Linked DNA regions of Homo sapiens. The protein of the gene in region 1 purifies or fractionates together with the protein of each later gene. This does not show direct contact. Each region holds a gene or a part of one and is shown on either strand. Other genes may lie near its edges.

Region 1 (5,577 bases):
AGGCTAGATCTTACCTGGAAAACAAGCAGGCGCTAAGTTTGAATCTTGAAACTTCCTAGCTTTCAGCCACTTCCTCAGCTCTATAAATTCAGACTTGTGGCTCTCATTCACTATCAGGCAAGGAGAGAACAAATGGTGATTAAAACCACTATATAATCGGATTACCATTTTTAAAAGAACATGTCTGATGAAATGTGTCAGACAGACTTACACAATAGTAAGAATTGGTGTATCTAAACATAGAAAAGTTACAATAAAAACACAGTATTGGCCAGGCGCAATGACTCACTTCTGTATTCCCAGCATTTGGGAGGCCAAGGCGGGAGGACTGCTTGAGGCCAGGAGTTTGAGCCCAGCCTGCCCAACACAGAAAGACCCCATCTCTTAAAAAAAAAAAAAATACAATATTATAATCTGAGGACCACCACTGTACATGTGATCCATCAACCAAAACATACTTATGCAACATACGACTATATTCATTCAATGTAATCCTAATCAAAATTCAAGCAGGCTTTCATACAGGAATTAACAAGATGATCCCAAAATTCATGTGGAAATGTAAAAAGCCTAGAATAGCCCCAATATCTTTGAAAGATTGATTTTAAAACTTATTATAAAGCTACAGTAATCAAATTAGTGTGATATTGTCAAAACAGACACAAATAGGTCAAAGGAACAACACAGAAAATAGGAAGAGGTCCACACGTAAATTTTTGACAAAGTGCAAAGGCAAATCAGTGGAAGAAGATAGTCTTTTCAATAAATGATGATCAAACAACTGGACCTCCATCAGCAAAAAAAAAAGTGAGCTTATCGATATCTTGTACCATATCCAGTTGGATTTACATAGGACTTTCCAGATGGCCAAGCACTTTTGTATTGAACAAGATACAGTATCTTCTTCAGACAGGGTTACCCTGAATTTGAAGTCATAAATTTACATCCAAACATTGATATCCTACAGATAGCTGAAGGTCAAGACCAGAAAAAGAAAGTTGGGAGTCATCCCCAGAGAAGACAGTTGAAACAATGAGTTAGTTATCTTCACATTCCCACCAGGATCTAAAAGAATACAATGGCACCATTAAAAAAGAGTGTTATTTAAGAAATATTCTCTTTGGGCTGGGCACAGTGGCTCACACCTGTAATCCCAGTGCTTTGGGGAGGCCAAGGCAGGAGGACCACTCGAGCCCAGGAGTTCAAGACCAGCCTGTGCAACATAGACCCTGTCACTACAACAAATTTAAAAAAACATTAGCCGGGTGCAGTGGCATGTACCTGTAGTCCCAGGTACTTGGGAGGCTGAGGCAGGAGGGAGGCTAAGGGAGGAGATCACTTGAGCCTGGGAGATCAAGCCATGATCACGCCACTGCATTCCAATCTGGGTAACAGAATGTACCTTGTCTCCAAAAAAAAAAAAAAAAGAAAGATTCTCTTTGAACACTGTGTGCCTTTGAGAAAAGCTATGTGTTAGGCCGAGCATGCTGGCTCACGCCTGTAGTCCCAGCTACTTGGGAGGCTGAGGCAGGAGAATCGCTTGAACCGGGGAAGCAGAGGTTGCAGTGAGCCAAGATGACACCACTGCACTCCAGCCTGGGTGACAGAGCGAGAATCCGTCTCAGAAAAAAGAAAGAAAGAAAGAAAAGCTACGTATGAACAAACAAGCAATCACAAAAGGATTTCTTTTTTCATTACTGGTACTAAAAGAAAAACCATACCTCCTCTTGATTCAGAACTTCCGCAGAGTTTTCGTCTTCTGATCCGGCTTGTTCTCCCTTTTCCTTTCTGCATGCTAAAACTGTAGTTTCTTTTTTCTGAAATACAGTTCTATTTTTTCAAAAAGGACAAAACTGTAATTTCTGTGGAAATGCTCAATCTAAAATAAAAAACATTTCTTTGATTTACTTTCCAGTTATATGATAATCACTGTTCTTTGTACCTTTAAGTATACAAATGTATGTTTTGGTAAACTGTTTCTCTCAAGTGCTTTTGTACATGAAACGTTTATACTGTGAGCTAAATCATGATCCCTACAGTAACAGAATTCCCATTATATCAGTCCCTCTAAAACAGTTTTATCTTGCAGACCTAGTGACTACAGCTTAATCTACTAAAAATACAAAAAATAGCTAGGCGTGGTGGCACACGCCTGTAATCCCAGCTACTTGGGAGGCTGAGGCAGGAGAATCGCTTGAACCTGGGAGGCGGAGGTTGCAGTGAGCCGAGATCGCGCTACTGCACTCCAGCCTGGGCGACAGAGCGAGGCTCCGTCTCAAAAAAATAAAAAAATAAATACATAAATAAAAATAAAATAATGGCTGGGTACAGTGGCTCACGCCTGTAAAACCAGCACTTTGGGAGCCCGAGGCGGGCTGAGGTCAGGAGTTCAAGACCAGCCTGGCCAACATGGTGAAACCCCGTCTCTACTAAAAATACAAAAATCAGCCGGGCGTGGTGGCAGGCACCTGTAATACCAGCTACTGGGGAGGCTGAGGCAGGAGAATCGCTTGATCTCAGGAGGCGGAAGCTGCAGCTAGACGAGATCACGCCACTGCACTCCAACCTGGGCGACAGAGCGAGACTCTGTCACAAAAAATAAATTAAAAAAATAAAAATAAAAAATAAATCTACTTCTAAAACATACGAGGGCAGAAATGAGCAAGAGACAAGAACTCCAGGCAATATTAATACCGCACTTCCGCAGTATAAGGTTCATTATTTGACCTAACGAAAGTCGGCATGTCCAGCTCCAGAGGCGAACGGCGGCTGGTTCGGTGCGGGTCCCAGCGCTCAGTCCACAGACCGCGCCGGGAAGTGTCCCCAAGACTCCCGGGCCCTCGCGCGAGCTGTCCACCATCACCCTGCTGAGGACCACGTGAAGCCCGGTGACCGCCACAGACACAGGCACCGTCCCCGCCCCCATAGTCCTCAAACTCTAGCCGTGAGGCCGTCCTACGGTCCGACACACACCGCTCCCGCAGCCATAGGCCAGCCAGGCGAGCATCGGACCTCGGGCCTCAGGCTCCTCAGCTTTACGCAGCGCGCCGGAGCAACATGCGCTAAGTGTAGGACTCCACAAGATGAGAGGTTACTGCAGCGCACACGATAATGCCTGCCCTGGAGGGGACCTGCGACCTAAACTCAGTTCTTTTTACGCTGATGAATGAAAGACTAAGGAACGCACCCCGCCGACTCTGCTCCCGTTACCCGGGCAACTGGAGGCCCGACCCGGAAGTCCTACTAGCTCACCTAGGCGCCGGCGGCCGCTTCCAAGATGGAGGCTGCAGTGGGCGGGCCCAAGGCACGTGGAAATACCAAACAGCCCCAGATGAAGGCAAGTTAAAGGAACCGGCCAAAACTGCAGAGGGAGAGGCTGAAGGCTGTCGCGCCTGCCTGGTGTCCTTAAGCAATCCAAGTCCTCAGTCTCCCGGGTCCGCCCCTTCCGCCGCGGGCGGCAGCTTCCGGCTCGCGCATGCGCAGTGTTCGCGGACTCGCCGCCAACGCCCAGTACAGTCGGGGACGAGGTCGGCACACCCACAGCCCCATAACCCCTACGTCGAGTCAGGGGTCAGAAAACCCAGTAACCCGCAGGCGAGCAAGCTGCGCACTGAAAAGCCGGCCTGCGGAGTCTTTCCTTACGAAGTTAAACCACCTAGGGCGCGCGGCCCTGTTCGCCCAGACCTCGGGCTTTCCTGCCAGGCTGGGTTTGCCGGGTCGAGTCACTTTGCTCGCCAATCCCCGCCCCCATTCCACCGTTTCATTCTGGCCCCAGGACCCGCCTCACAGGAAAATTCTAAATAATATATCTAAATACCCCTTCTTCCAATAGCGGGAGCTCGATTTCTGCCCCACCCACCCCCACTTTGATTATGGGCTATGCCTAGTAACTTGATTCCAAAGAGTACAGCCTGGAATGGTGTTGGGGACTACAGTGGAGAAACCTGGCAAACAGTACCTTACCGGGTGGTCAAGGATAACATCAGGAAGAAATCATGCTGATAGCATGTTCCTGTGGTGTCTCTCTCCAAAACCCTTCTATGGAAATCTTCTATGGGGGAAAAAAAATTAGTACTCCTAAACATGTTTTCTGTCATGAAAAACAAGTACAGTTGTCCCTTAGTGTCCGTGGGGGAATGGTTCCAGGACCCTGCGGATACCAGAATTAGAATGCTCAAGTCCCTTGTATACAATGGTGTAAACCTAAGTAACAAAAGAGGCTCCCTAAAAGAAAATGAGATTTATCTGGGAGTAGCATTGCAATGGGAATATGCATGCCATAGTAAACTGTGTGCGTTTTGGGGGAGGTTGAGGCAAGGAGATGTTTTTAAAAGGAAAATGAAGATTATATGAATTGCTTTAAATCAATTATCTTTGGCTAAAAGAATGAATAACAAAGGTAGCATCAGTCCAAAGTTGCTGGACAGATGTCCTTGCAGAAGGATTTTCTGTGTTTAAGATTGGGCCTTTCTGCAAGGTTAGGGTCTTTTGTGACAATTCTTGTTATGAGGCGTAGTGCATGAGAACCCTTCCTTCAAGGCCTTCCCCAGCTGCATTTATCAGGGTTTTGACACAAGTGACTCCATTTTGATTCTGCAACTTTCACAATGGTGTAATATTTGCATATAACCTATGCACATCCTCCCATATACTTTAAATCATCTCTAGATTACTTATAACATCTAATACAATGTAAATACTATGTAAATAGTGAAGGGGTGGCCTGCCGCTCCACACCTGTGGGTGTTTCTCATCGGGTGGGATGAGAGACTGAGAAAAAAAAGAGACACAGAGGCAAAGTATAGAGAAAGAAAAGTGGGCCCAGTGGACCGGCGCTCAGCATACGGAGCACAAATCCTATTTAAACTACAGATTCTAAACACAAATGATTTTATTCACCCCTGCCCCCCAACACTAAAAGATTTAAACACTAACATAGTTTCTAACAGCTGTAAACTAAACAAATCCTAAGCCCCTACTGACTGAATGGAACCCCTTTTGGCCAAGATGGCCCCAGAAAAAAACTTAGAAACTTAGTTCCCAGCCCTGATGGAATGTGAGGTCAGACATGCCTCATTATACCCTCTCTCTTTTACAGTTTAGATACAACTGGCCAGCATTGATGTTAAAATAGAGACCATGAGACTGATGGAACAGACTTTTTGTGGCAATAAGATACAAAAATTATAAACAAGACCTAAGGCCATTCCAGGAAAGAGTTAAGTCACTTCAAGAATAAATTCTGTTCTAATGGTTACAAGTTTTTTCTTTTTCTCTAGCAGCTAAACAAGCACTCACCTCCACCTAAGCAATATTAAAACAATTACCGCTTGTGCACCACCAGATGTTAACTAACCCCCTGTTCCACAATGACAGAGCATCACCATCTTGGACAACCCCCTCATTCTAAAGTGCACCTTAATAAAAAACCGCCTAGGCCAGGTGCGGTGGCTCACGCCTGTAATCCCAGCACTTTGGGAGGCCGAGGTGGGCAGATCACGAGGTCAGGAGATCGAGACCATCCTGGCTAATTCGGTGAAACCCCATCTCTACTAAAAATACAAAAAATTACCCGGG
Region 2 (4,365 bases), on another chromosome or scaffold:
TGCTGATGGTTCACCAGCAGCAACCAGGGCAGTGTGAAAATGCAGATTTCCAAGCTTTGCTCTCTCGCTTCCTGAATCAGAATTGCTGAGGGACAGGCTAAATATATTTTTAAAAAAGCTCTTTGGGTCGGGTGCGGTGTGGCTCACACCTGTAATCCCAGCACTTTGGGAGGCTGAGGCTGGCGGGGTTTTACTAGGTCAGGAGTTCCAGACCAGCCTGGCCAACATAGTGAAACCCCCGTCTCTACTAAAAATACAAAAAATTAGCCAGGCATGGTGGTGTGCGCCTGTAACCCCAGCTACTCCGGAGGCTGAGGCAGGAGAATTGCTTGAACCCAGGAGGCAGAGGGTTCAGTGAGCCAAGATTGTGCCACTGCACTCCAGCCTCGGCAACGGTGCAAGACTCTGTCTAACGTCAAAAAAAAAAAAAAAAAAAACAAAAAAAACCCAAAAAACAAAAAACAAAGCACTAAAAGACCTTTGGTGGCCAGGCACGGTGACTCATGCCTGTAATCCCAGCACTTTGGGAGGCCAAGGTGGCCAGATCACCTGAGGTCGCAAGTTCAAGACCAGCCTGGCCAACATGGTAAAACCCCGTCTCTACTAAAAATACAAAAATTAGCCGGGCGTGCTGGTGGGCGCCTGTAGTCCCAGCTACTTCGGAGGCTGAGGCACACGAATCACTTGAACCCAGGACGCAGAGGTTACAGTGAGCCAAGATTGTGCCACTGCACCAGAGAATAAGACTGTCTCAAAAAAATAAAAATAAATAAATAAATAAAATAAATTTTAAAAAAAGCTCTTCAGTGATTCTTATAATCAGTTTGGTTTGGAAACTATCCATGTTGTCAACCTTAATGAAGGGATTCTCAAACTTCAGGTACCTGTTAAAATGCAGATCCCCTATGTGTTGGGTGGGGACCCCACACTCATATTTTAATAAGCTTCCCAGGTGATTCTGATACAGGTGGGCCTTCAACTGTCTTTTGGCCTGTGAATGTTTTGATTCTATTGTTGCATGTCTCTGACAGGTGCAGACACTATGCTACACTACACAAAACTTCCCTGAGCAAGTGGTTAAATACACAACTAGATGCAGAAAGGGCGATCATGAGCAGGTAACAGGATTTTCAGGGCTTCGTGATCCCCAGTATGCGGTTTATAGCATTTCTAAGTAGGAGATCTACCAGGAAAATGAAGTGGAAGTGGAAGAGAGAGTTTTAAAGAGATTGCAGAGATTACTCTTCTAGTAATGGTGATCCTATAAATACAGTCCATACAGATTTGGACTGTAACATATTACATCTTTGAGAACAGTAGTTCTCAAACGGGGGTAATTTTACACAGAGGTCATTTGGCAATGTCTGGAGACATTTCTGGTAGTCATAGCCGTATGTGTGCGTGTGTGTATGCTGTGGGCATCTAGTGGGTAGAGGCCTGGGATGTTGCTAAAGACCCTACAATGCACAGGACAGCCTTCATAATGGAGAACTAACTGGTCCAAAATATCAATAGTGCGAAGGTGAGAAATCTTGCTCTAGAGGAGCTGGTTCCAAGATGTGAGGACTCTGGGGACAACAGGGGTTAAAAGAACAATCAATTCATCCACCTCTCCACTTATAATTTTTTTTTTTTTCCAAGACGGAGTTTCGTTCTTATTGCCCAGGCTGGAGTGCAATGGTGTGATCTCGGCTCATTGCAACCTCTGCCTCCTGGGTTCAAGCAATTCTCCTGCCTCGGCCTCCTGAGTAGCTGGGATTACAGGTGCCCGTCATCACGCCCAGCTCATTTTTTGTAGTTTTAGTAGAAATGGGGTTTGATCATGTCGGCCAGGCTGGTCTCAAACTCCTGACCTCAGGTGATCCATCCGCCTCGGCCTCCCCAAGTGCTGGGATTATAAGCGTGAGCCACCGCGCCTGGCATCCACTTACAATTTCTTACAGGCCAGGAGGCCCTGTGGCTATGGAGATGAATAACCCATACTCCTGCTCTTCAAAAACATATAATCGGATAGTTTACAATAATTACAGAATGCTACATTAGCAAGGTTGTACACTAGAATCTCTCAGAGGTACTCACTGAAATAGGATTCCCAGGCTCCACAGACCTATCAAGTCAGACTCTCCAGTGAAGGGGTCAATAAGCCTCTCTGGTTTTTCGGGGTCCTGTGCTGGAGATTCTGTTTCAGTGATGGGGAGGTGAGGGGGGCTGTCAGAGGGACAATATGAAGACCGGTCTGACTGGGGCTAGAAGGGCTGTCAACGGGTACAAGCAAGAAGTATTCCAGGCAGAGAGATTATCATGTGCAGATACAGCCACTGACCTTTCTAGGTGAATCTACTCACACATCTGAGTACCCAGTTCTCCATCAGTAACTCCAGAAATGTACTGGATTAAAAGCAGAGGAAAAGCAAAGGCCAAGAAAATGTTTCCCAAAAAAGGAAGCAGAAAGCCCGCCATATGGGGACAAGGTTTTAGGGCAGCCTATGATACTTGGCAACAATATCCTCATAAGAAGTTAATCTTTTACCAGATGTAATTAGCAACCCATCATTTACCATCATTTCCCAGTTGCTCCTGCACTTTCTCAAAGTCCGATCCGCCTACCACTCCGATTTTGATCTTCTGCCTCAATTTTTGTAGGAAGTCATCCATTTCTTTGGTAATTTTCTAAATTTCAAGAAAGAAAATACAACAGTCATAAGCCACACAATAATCAGGAGACCAAAACTCTAAGGGTAACACAAGTACATAAGTCTTATTTTCTTATTTAAAAATTAAAGAAAAAATTTTTTTTTGAGATAGGGTCTCACTTGTCACCCAAGCTGGAGTGCAGTGGCATGGTCATAGCTCATCGCAGCCTCGACCTCCCTGGACTCCGGTGATCCTCCTATCTCTGCCTCCTGAGTAGCTGGGACCATAGTTATGTGCCAGCACACCTGGCTAATTTTTTTATATTTTGTAGAGACTAAGTTTTGCCATGTTGCCCAGGCCAGTCTGGAACTCCTGGGTTCAGGAGATCCACCAGCCTTGGCCTCCCAAAGTGCTGAGATTACAGGTATAAGCCAGGTCTATAAGCCTTATTTTCATACATGCCAATTAAGTTACCAGCTCTGTACATAGTTCAAATATTTTAGTTGTAACTGGGGGGGCATCTTTACCAGAATAAACTTAAGTGTTATTTTTACCAAATTTTAAACACAGGTAATATGTTAGTAGCTGTTGTGCACTGTCCCAGCTATTTTTCTATGCATTTATATACCCATCTATGGGCACATATACAAATAGGTCTTATTTTTGAAACATAAATGGAATCATGTCCTGTGCAGGGACTTTGGTTTTTCAGCACTATGCTGTGGTGATCTTTTCATGCCAACACAGATCTAGCTCATCATTCCTTTTAAATGCTACACTATACTCCATTTATGGATTTAAGTTGTTGATTTTAAAATAAAACAACATAATGAAATTAAAGAGGAAGCTTAGGGCCAGACATGGAGGCTCATGCCTGTAATCCCGGCACTTTAGGAGGCCGAGGCGGGTGGATCACCTGAGGTCAGAGTTCGAGATCAGCCTGGCCAACGTGGCGAAACCCTGTCTCTATTAAAAATACAAAAATTAGGCGGGCGCGCTGGTGGGCGCCTGTAGTCCCAGCTACTCGGGAGGCTGAGGCAGGAGAATCACTTGAACCCGGGAGTCAGAGGTTGCAGTGAGCCAAGATCGTGCCACTGCACTCCAGCCTGGGTCACAGAGCGAGACTTCGTCTCAAAACAAAACAAAACAAAACAAAAAAAAAAAAAAAAGGAGAAGCTTAGAATTGATTTTATTGCAATCACCCAAAACAAAACAAAAATGTAAAAGAGTAAGATAACTAGATTTTTTAGTCTCTTCTAAAAGCAAAGCTCCTATCTAGAAAGAGTGGTCTTAGTGGTATAATCTTATGGTAAATTCCAAACTGTGTGATAATTTTAAAAAAGTTATAAACTAAGATGAAAAAATAGCCCTACATTAAGACACATCACAATGTATTTTTACAAGTCTTATAACTCAGCACTTTGAGCAATCTCAGTTGTACATTTACACTGAATGTCTTTTTTTTTTTTTTTTTGACACGAAGTCGTGCTCTGTCACCCAGGCTGGAGTGCAATGGTGTGGTCTCGGCTCATTGCAACCTCCACTTCCTGGGTTCAAGCGATTCTCCTGTCTCAGCCTCCCAGGTAGCCAGGATTACAGGCGCCCGCCATCATGCTCGGCTAATCTTTTTGTATTTTTAGTAGAGACTGGGTTTCACCATGTTGGCAAGGCTGGTCTCGAACTCCTGACCTCAAGTGATCCACCCGCCTCAGCCTCCCCAAGTGCTGGGAT

What was found. Proteins that work in one complex are often made in the same cells at the same time.
Region 2: the proteins of SETD4 (region 1) and PMM2 purify together in Homo sapiens (affinity purification with mass spectrometry; one large-scale study listed by BioGRID and IntAct). This does not show direct contact.

What each region holds. Positions count from the first base shown.
Region 1 is NC_000021.9:36,057,095-36,062,671, forward strand, and holds the start of SETD4 (SET domain-containing protein 4), read right to left. Parts: upstream 3,433-5,577; 5' UTR 3,253-3,432; exon of another isoform or gene 2,728-3,252; intron 1,880-2,727; exon of another isoform or gene 1,831-1,879; 5' UTR 1,795-1,830; coding exon 1,722-1,794; intron 384-1,721; exon of another isoform or gene 291-383; coding exon of another isoform or gene 290-290; intron 111-289; coding exon 15-110; intron 1-14. UniProt on the Homo sapiens protein: Protein-lysine N-methyltransferase that methylates both histones and non-histone proteins. Via its catalytic activity, regulates many processes, including cell proliferation, cell differentiation, inflammatory response and apoptosis.
Region 2 is NC_000016.10:8,800,104-8,804,468, reverse strand, and holds part of PMM2 (phosphomannomutase 2), read right to left. Parts: intron 2,671-4,365; coding exon 2,559-2,670; intron 1-2,558. UniProt on the Homo sapiens protein: Involved in the synthesis of the GDP-mannose and dolichol-phosphate-mannose required for a number of critical mannosyl transfer reactions.